Linked DNA regions of Homo sapiens. The protein of the gene in region 1 purifies or fractionates together with the protein of each later gene. This does not show direct contact. Each region holds a gene or a part of one and is shown on either strand. Other genes may lie near its edges.

Region 1 (3,500 bases):
ATAAATACATATAATATTTTCAAAATCTCTTTAAAATAAATTGGAAAGATGACAATTCACCTCTATAGACCTAAATAAAGTATGTCACAGAAATGAAGACATTCTTCCAGCTACAGTATAATTATTGTATCTAAGGAAACGAACTGCAATGCCCTCATGTCGTTTAACATCCAGTCTATATTTGAATTTCCCACTGTTTAATGGAAATGTCTTTTATAGTGCTCCCTTTTAAAACAGAATGGAAACAAGTTGTGAGCTGATCTGTTCTTTATAATCATAGGTTTCCCATTCAGCAATTACTTATAATCCACTGGGTGATAATTCCTAACAGAAGAAGTCATATTCCATGACAAATTTTCACATATGATTGTGTAAACATCACTAATACTTTTGTATTTAATGGTTATTTATTATTGTATTTATTATTTTTTGGAGTTTTTAGATAATCATTTTCAATTTTAAAACCTTATTTAACTATTCTTACGTGACATTTTACTATGAAAAAAAATCCTTCACCAAATCAAAATGAAGAACAAATATTCCTCAAAGACAAAGTTTAATACTTGCCTCTAAATATCAATTTCCTAAGAGATTACTATAATAACCACCAATGGTGGAGGCAAATTATTTTGTTCTTTCTTGCTCTCTGATTATCTCACTCATTACTCTGGACTTGGACATTTTTCCTTAAGATTTTTAATTAATTTTATTAATTTTTGTTAGTGCTCATTCTTACCCAATGGGTAGATTTTTTTCTTGATGCTGAAATCTATCCAAACATCACCAGTGACATTTCTTTGAAAGTAGTGCTTTTGTCTTTCAGACTTGCACTCACGAGTCCTTGACCAAATTCTTGCTTTCTGGCACAATCTGAAGCCCAAAGGCTCTAAGAATCTTACTGTATCCCAGATATGGAACTTGTTACATCTCCTTCTAGTTGTCAAAGGTCTTTGGAAGCCAGGATCTGATTCATAGATGAGCTTCTGTTCAGAAATGGCATTTCCATTTATACTTTTAGAAGATATATAAAATTTATTTCTATGAAAAAGGTTATTACTTGACAATAATATCCTCAGCTCAAATATAATGCTATACTGATTATTATTCAGCTTCCTTACTTTCATCTTTTCAATATTAACATAACTATTTCATATAAATTGATGCTTCTCTCTTTTGGTCAACTGCAGGTAGAATGTCATCCGTATTTCAACCGGAGTAAATTGCTAGATTTCTGCAAGTCGAAAGATATTGTTCTGGTTGCCTATAGTGCTCTGGGATCTCAACGAGACAAACGATGGTAATAAAAACAATGGGACCTTTACATAAACCTTCATTTTGCAGAAAATTTTTTAGTCAGAGCATCCTCAGTTTCCTGTAGTTAAGTTTCAAGTGGCTCATGGAGAGGAAAGAGAATTGCATTTCTGACGAGATCTTGGATGATGCTGATGGTGATGCTCGGGGGCCTCGCTTGAGAAGCTCCGGTGCAGAGTGGATGCCTTAGTCTGTTTAGGGAGCCGCCTAACAAACTATCGCCAGCCTCAGGGCCTCAGCCTTTCTGCCTTTCCTTCCAGGGTGGACCCGAACTCCCCGGTGCTCTTGGAGGACCCAGTCCTTTGTGCCTTGGCAAAAAAGCACAAGCGAACCCCAGCCCTGATTGCCCTGCGCTACCAGCTGCAGCGTGGGGTTGTGGTCCTGGCCAAGAGCTACAATGAGCAGCGCATCAGACAGAACGTGCAGGTGAGGAGCGGGGCTGTGGGCCTCAGGTCTCCTGCACAGTGTCCTTCACACGTGTGCTTCTTGTAAGGCTCTCAGGACAGCCTTGGGCCAGCTCCATTTCCCTGTATTTCCCATATGAATGCTTTGCGTGCATCCTGAGGGTTTCTTCTACTCTACCACGGGAGAGGCAGCACAGGTGCAGAGAATTAAGATGGGACCAAAAATGGAGATTTTTTTATTTCAGCATTAAGTTGACAATCTACTCTGCATCCCTGCACCAGGAACATCATTTTTTCATGTTGTTTGTTTGGTTTTGGTTTTTTTTTTTTGAGACAGAGTCTCATTCTGTCTCCCAGATGGGATGATTCTCCTGCCTCAGCCTCCTGAGTAGCTGGGATTACAGGTGCCTACCACCAAGCCCGGCTAATTTTTGTAATTTTTAATAGAGAAGGTATTTCACCATGTTGGCCAGGCTAGTTCCAAACTCCTGACCTCAGGCAACCCACCTGCTGTGGCCTCCCAAAGTGGTACTACAGGTGTGAGCCACCGCTCCTGGCCTCCTCTTCATCTTCAGAAATGTGGAGTAGCATTAGGTGTTCTTTAGTCTACCAGTCATTGTGGATTTTTCATTTCCATTTCTTCGTACGCTCAGTTAAAATTTCACATATTTATTCACTTGGAGTTTTCTGTTTGTGTACTGCCTGTTTAAGTCTTTCTTTGACTCTTAGTTGCTTGTCTTTTTTTTAAGTATAGGAGACCATAATTATACTATTAAATAGAGCTGTTAAACAAATCACCCTCAACATAGGGGTTTAAGATGAAAACCACTGATTTACTCAGGATTCTCTAGTTAGAAAATTAGCATGGCCTCAGCCTGAACTTAGTCAAGTTCTGTTCTTGGCTGGGCTCTCTCATGTGTTTGCAGGACAACGAGATAGCTCTGCTTCAAGATGTCAATGGGACATTTGTCTGGGTGCCATTTTCTCCTCCATATAGTTCATCCTGCAGCCATCCAGCCCAGACTTCACCTCAGCACATGGCATGACCCCAAGGCAGTGAGTGGACACATGCAAAGCCTTTTCATGTCTAGGCTCAGGGCTGCCACGCCATTGCTTCTGGCAAATATTACCCACATTACAGGACAGGCCAGACTCAAGGGATGGGTAAACAGACACCACCACTTATTGGAAAGAGCTAGAAATTCATATAACCAAGCAAGTGGATACAGGGACATGTGAGTGTTGGAGGAAGTGTTTCTTATTAATCTATGATGGATTAATATATGATAGGTTAATATATATGATAGATTGATATATATATTATAGTTTAATAAGATATATGAGATAGATTACACATACATACATATATATATTCTGGGTATTAATCGTTTAGAGATTTAGATGTATTATTGAAGTACCACCTCCCAAATTGCATATGTGCTGTGGTTTTCTCTGTAGTTATGTATTCATGAACAAAAGTTGCTACTTTTCATGTAGTTAAATTATTCATGCCTCTTTCCTGTGGTTGATGAGTGGCATGTCTTTTCTTATATTGGGAACATGACAATCTTTTAATATGTTATCTTGCAAAATTGGTAATTCTCTTTACTTATAAATTAGTTGTAAATTCAAATGAATTTCTTTTTCAATACTAAGTAAAATAAAAACCCAAATATGCACATGGAATTTCTAAATTGATATCAAAAGGTGCCACCAACAATTATTGAAAAGCATTCACATTTGCTCACATATCTTGATTTTTTACTCTACCATAAATGAAACATT
Region 2 (3,500 bases), on another chromosome or scaffold:
CTCAGTCATCTCAGGAAAATCTCTCATTTCAGGAGGATCAAGTACAAGGAAACCACGTTGAACCAACAGGCCACTTTTCCATGCATGGAGCTCTGGCACCTTTAATTCATGGTGCTTCCCTCCAGAAGAAATCCAGTCCAGCAATGATTCCCTCTGCTCTGGTGGAACAGCCAAGCTGTTCCTGGGGGTCAGCTCACAAGTGGTGTGAAGGTGGATGAGCAAAAGAGAGGAAGAGCCTCTTAGGGCGAGGGAGCCAAAAGTCAGACCTCAAGTTGCCCTGGGAAACATGATGCGATGGCTCTGCTGCCCCAGACCCTGGGCTTTTCCTCCTGGGGTGACGGGCCTGTGCTTCTAGCCCTGTGGCTCACGTGTGTCCCTGTGGACACTCAGGCTACAGTTTCCTCCCACCCAGGTCCAGGTCTAGGTTGACATTTAACAGGGAGGAGGGAGTTTGGGGAATGGAGGATGCCGAGTAAGAATCACGGGTAAGGCCACCTGGGGATCCTCCAAGGGCAAAGCCCTGTCCAGGGCAGAATTCACAGTTTAGGGGGATCCCCAGGTGCACTGAGAGGGGTGATTCTCATCTTCAGGGGGCCAGAGGACCTCTTCCCTTACTCCTGAGCTGAATCCTCCTGTCCCCATTTTACGGCCTTCCTCAGATCTGTCCAGTCCCTCCTGCACCATGCGTGGGGCGTGCTCAGAGCTCCGGGAGGCTGGGAGAGGAGGTGAGAGTGTGTTTGCTTGCATAGGGCGAGGGGGAGCCAACATCCGTGATCACAGAATATGGCACTTGAGATGGACTGGCACCCAGGAGGCCCAGCTGCCAGTCCCAGGAACAAATGTAATGCCCTTGACTGGCTTTTGGAAAAATTGCTGGGGTTGGTCAAGGTTGGGCAGAACTCTAGCCAGGACCTCCCATGGCCCTTCCCAAGATGAGTCCAGGGCTCAAGCAGGATCTCTGGGCTTAAACCAATGTGCACCATTGGCTCTGCAGGGAGGAAAATCAACACCAGCCCTTCCCTCCCCTCCCCTCCCCCAAGACCACCAAAAATGCTCCCTCCCCACAAATCACCCTTCACTGTGCATTCACCTCTGATACTTTTAAGTGAAAACATGAATTAGGCAAACTAATCAATTTGACAACTGTTGGGATCCGGGCTTTCTCACTGTAGTGGAAATGGCTTCTTTACTTGAAGTCTGCTAAGATGTCACTGAAAATATTGAGGAACAGGTGAGCGTGGTGATCCCTGAAGACCAGCGTGGGACGGAAACGAATGGATTTGTCACCACAGCCACCCAACACCACACCTGAAAGAGGCAGGAGGTAGGTGAGGAGCGTGGTTTCTCAAAGTCACATGCTGGGAGAGCTGGGGGGAAAGTGATGCCTGTTGGCAACGCTCATCCATCCATCCATCCATCCATCCATCATCCTCCATCATGGAAGCCCGGGCTTCCTTCCTACCACCCACCCATCCAGTCTTCATTTCCTTTCTCTCTCCCCTCATTCATCTCCTCCATCATTCTCTTCTTCCTTTCCTTCCCTCCACACTTCCTTTTTCCCTTCCTCCCTCCCTCTCTCCTTTGAGTGCCTGCTTTGCTGCCCCAAGCTAGGTCTGGTGATAGAGAAATCCTGAGATAAAGTCCTTGCCTTCCACAAAGTCATGGAGGAGTGGGAAAAGAAAATAGGTAAGCAAATAAGTTGCAAAAGCACAGGCTGAGTCGGAAGCATGTGTGAGGTGCTGAGCTATTACGGAGGAGGGACAGGCTCTGCTTATTTTAAAGGGTGACTTCACAGTTACAGCTGGTGTCCTTTCCTTGTCGAGGTTGTTTATGCCTTTTTTTTTTTTTTTTTTAGAGATGGAGTCTCGCGCTGTCACCCAGGCTGGGGTGCAGTGGCAACCCAGTCTCACTCACTGCAACCTCCACCTCCCAGGTTCAAGCCATTCTCCTGCCTCAGTCTCCCAAGTAGCTGGGATCACAGGTGCCGCCACCACGGCCAGCTAATTTTTGTATTTTCAGTAGAGATGAGGTTTTGCCCCGTTGGCCAGGCTGGTCTCGAACTCCTGACTTCAGCTGATCTGCCCACGTCGGCCTCCCAAAGTGCTGGGATTACAGGCGTGAGCTACTGCACCCGGCCTGTTTATGCCTTTGAGACCACGTTTTCTCATTTTTAAAATGGAGGTTGATTATCCCTGCCCTTCTGAGGCTGCTGCAAGGATTCTGTAAGATGGCACAAGAAGAACTGACAATGTGCCTGACATAGAGTACGTGCTCTGATCTCACCACAGCGTCTGCCCTTACCCCTGCCACACATGTCCTCAGTGGCTTCCCACAGCTCCTAGGATGAAGTCTGGAGTGCTAAGCCTGATCTGCAGGCCCATGCGACCCGGGCCTGGCCTCTCCTCCCCCAGCTTCATCCCCTCCCAACCGTTCGCCTTCACGCCCCCTTCTTTCCCTTTTACCACCTCTGTAAGCTCCATCCCACCTCAGGCCATCGCATGCACCCTTCCCTCCGCCCAGAATGCTCTTCCTTACCTTCTTCACCCAGCCAATCCCTGTTTGTCAAGACTTAGGGTAAAATGCTACTTCCTCAAGGGAGCCTGCCCTGATTTCCTACCCTCACCAACTGCTGCAGCTATCTGCTCTCTTAGCTGCGTTTTCTCCTTCCCAGGACTTAAAATTGCAATGGATTGGTTGTGAAATGCCATGTGTAAAGCCATGCCTTCCTGCTACACTGCATGCTTCCTGAAGGAAGGGGCTCTGATGGTCTTCATCATCACTGTAACTGTCTCCAGTGTCCACTTACAACTCACCTCCTCAGCGAACGCTTGTTGAGTAAATAAATGGATAAAGAAATCCCATTTGTAATGTTCTCTTCTTTGGAGAAAGAGCATTCAGGCTCTTTTCAGACCTGTGTACCACCTGCCCCCCACACAAAATATTGCTGAGTACCTAGCAACATGTGGCAGCTACAGCAGGAGATACTGGATGCTCATGAAACTCAGCAGCCACTCCTGACCCCTTACCTTTGTTTCTGGCAATTAAAATGAGCTTATTCCGTATGGAATCATCGGGAGTATCGAAGGAGCAAAAGGTGCCTCGTCCTCTCACCCTGCTGATGAACTGGGGGTACCGGGCCTGTAGTGGGAGGAGACAAGGCTGGCGTCAAAGCCCATCACCTGTGTACCAGCTGGGCTTAATGGCTGTGCTTCGTCAAAGGCCTCCCATGGTCCAGCCTCGGCCTCTGCATGGACTGGCAGGACCTCCAGGGGGTTAAGAGCTCTGGGGACATTCAGGCCTGGGTTCAAAGCCCAGCTGTGCACATGTGTGTTGTGTGGAGGAAAAAAACCACCACCACCACCACCAGCAACAACAACCAAGCCCAGCTCTGTCCCTCTCACTGTATAACCTTGGGCCACTCAAGTGCCTCTGTTTACCCTGCTATAAACTGAAGGATTTAAATGCTGTTGACCCCACTGGGGCCGTGGTGAGACTTTAGC

What was found.
Region 2: the proteins of AKR1C3 (region 1) and ABAT fractionate together in Homo sapiens (co-fractionation; one large-scale study listed by BioGRID). This does not show direct contact.

What each region holds. Positions count from the first base shown.
Region 1 is NC_000010.11:5,100,914-5,104,413, forward strand, and holds part of AKR1C3 (aldo-keto reductase family 1 member C3), read left to right. Parts: intron 1-1,187; coding exon 1,188-1,297; intron 1,298-1,571; coding exon 1,572-1,737; intron 1,738-3,500. UniProt on the Homo sapiens protein: Cytosolic aldo-keto reductase that catalyzes the NADH and NADPH-dependent reduction of ketosteroids to hydroxysteroids.
Region 2 is NC_000016.10:8,779,117-8,782,616, reverse strand, and holds part of ABAT (4-aminobutyrate aminotransferase, mitochondrial isoform 1 precursor), read right to left. Parts: intron 3,139-3,500; coding exon 3,027-3,138; intron 1,368-3,026; coding exon of another isoform or gene 1,309-1,367; coding exon 1,187-1,308; 3' UTR 1-1,186. UniProt on the Homo sapiens protein: Catalyzes the conversion of gamma-aminobutyrate and L-beta-aminoisobutyrate to succinate semialdehyde and methylmalonate semialdehyde, respectively. Can also convert delta-aminovalerate and beta-alanine.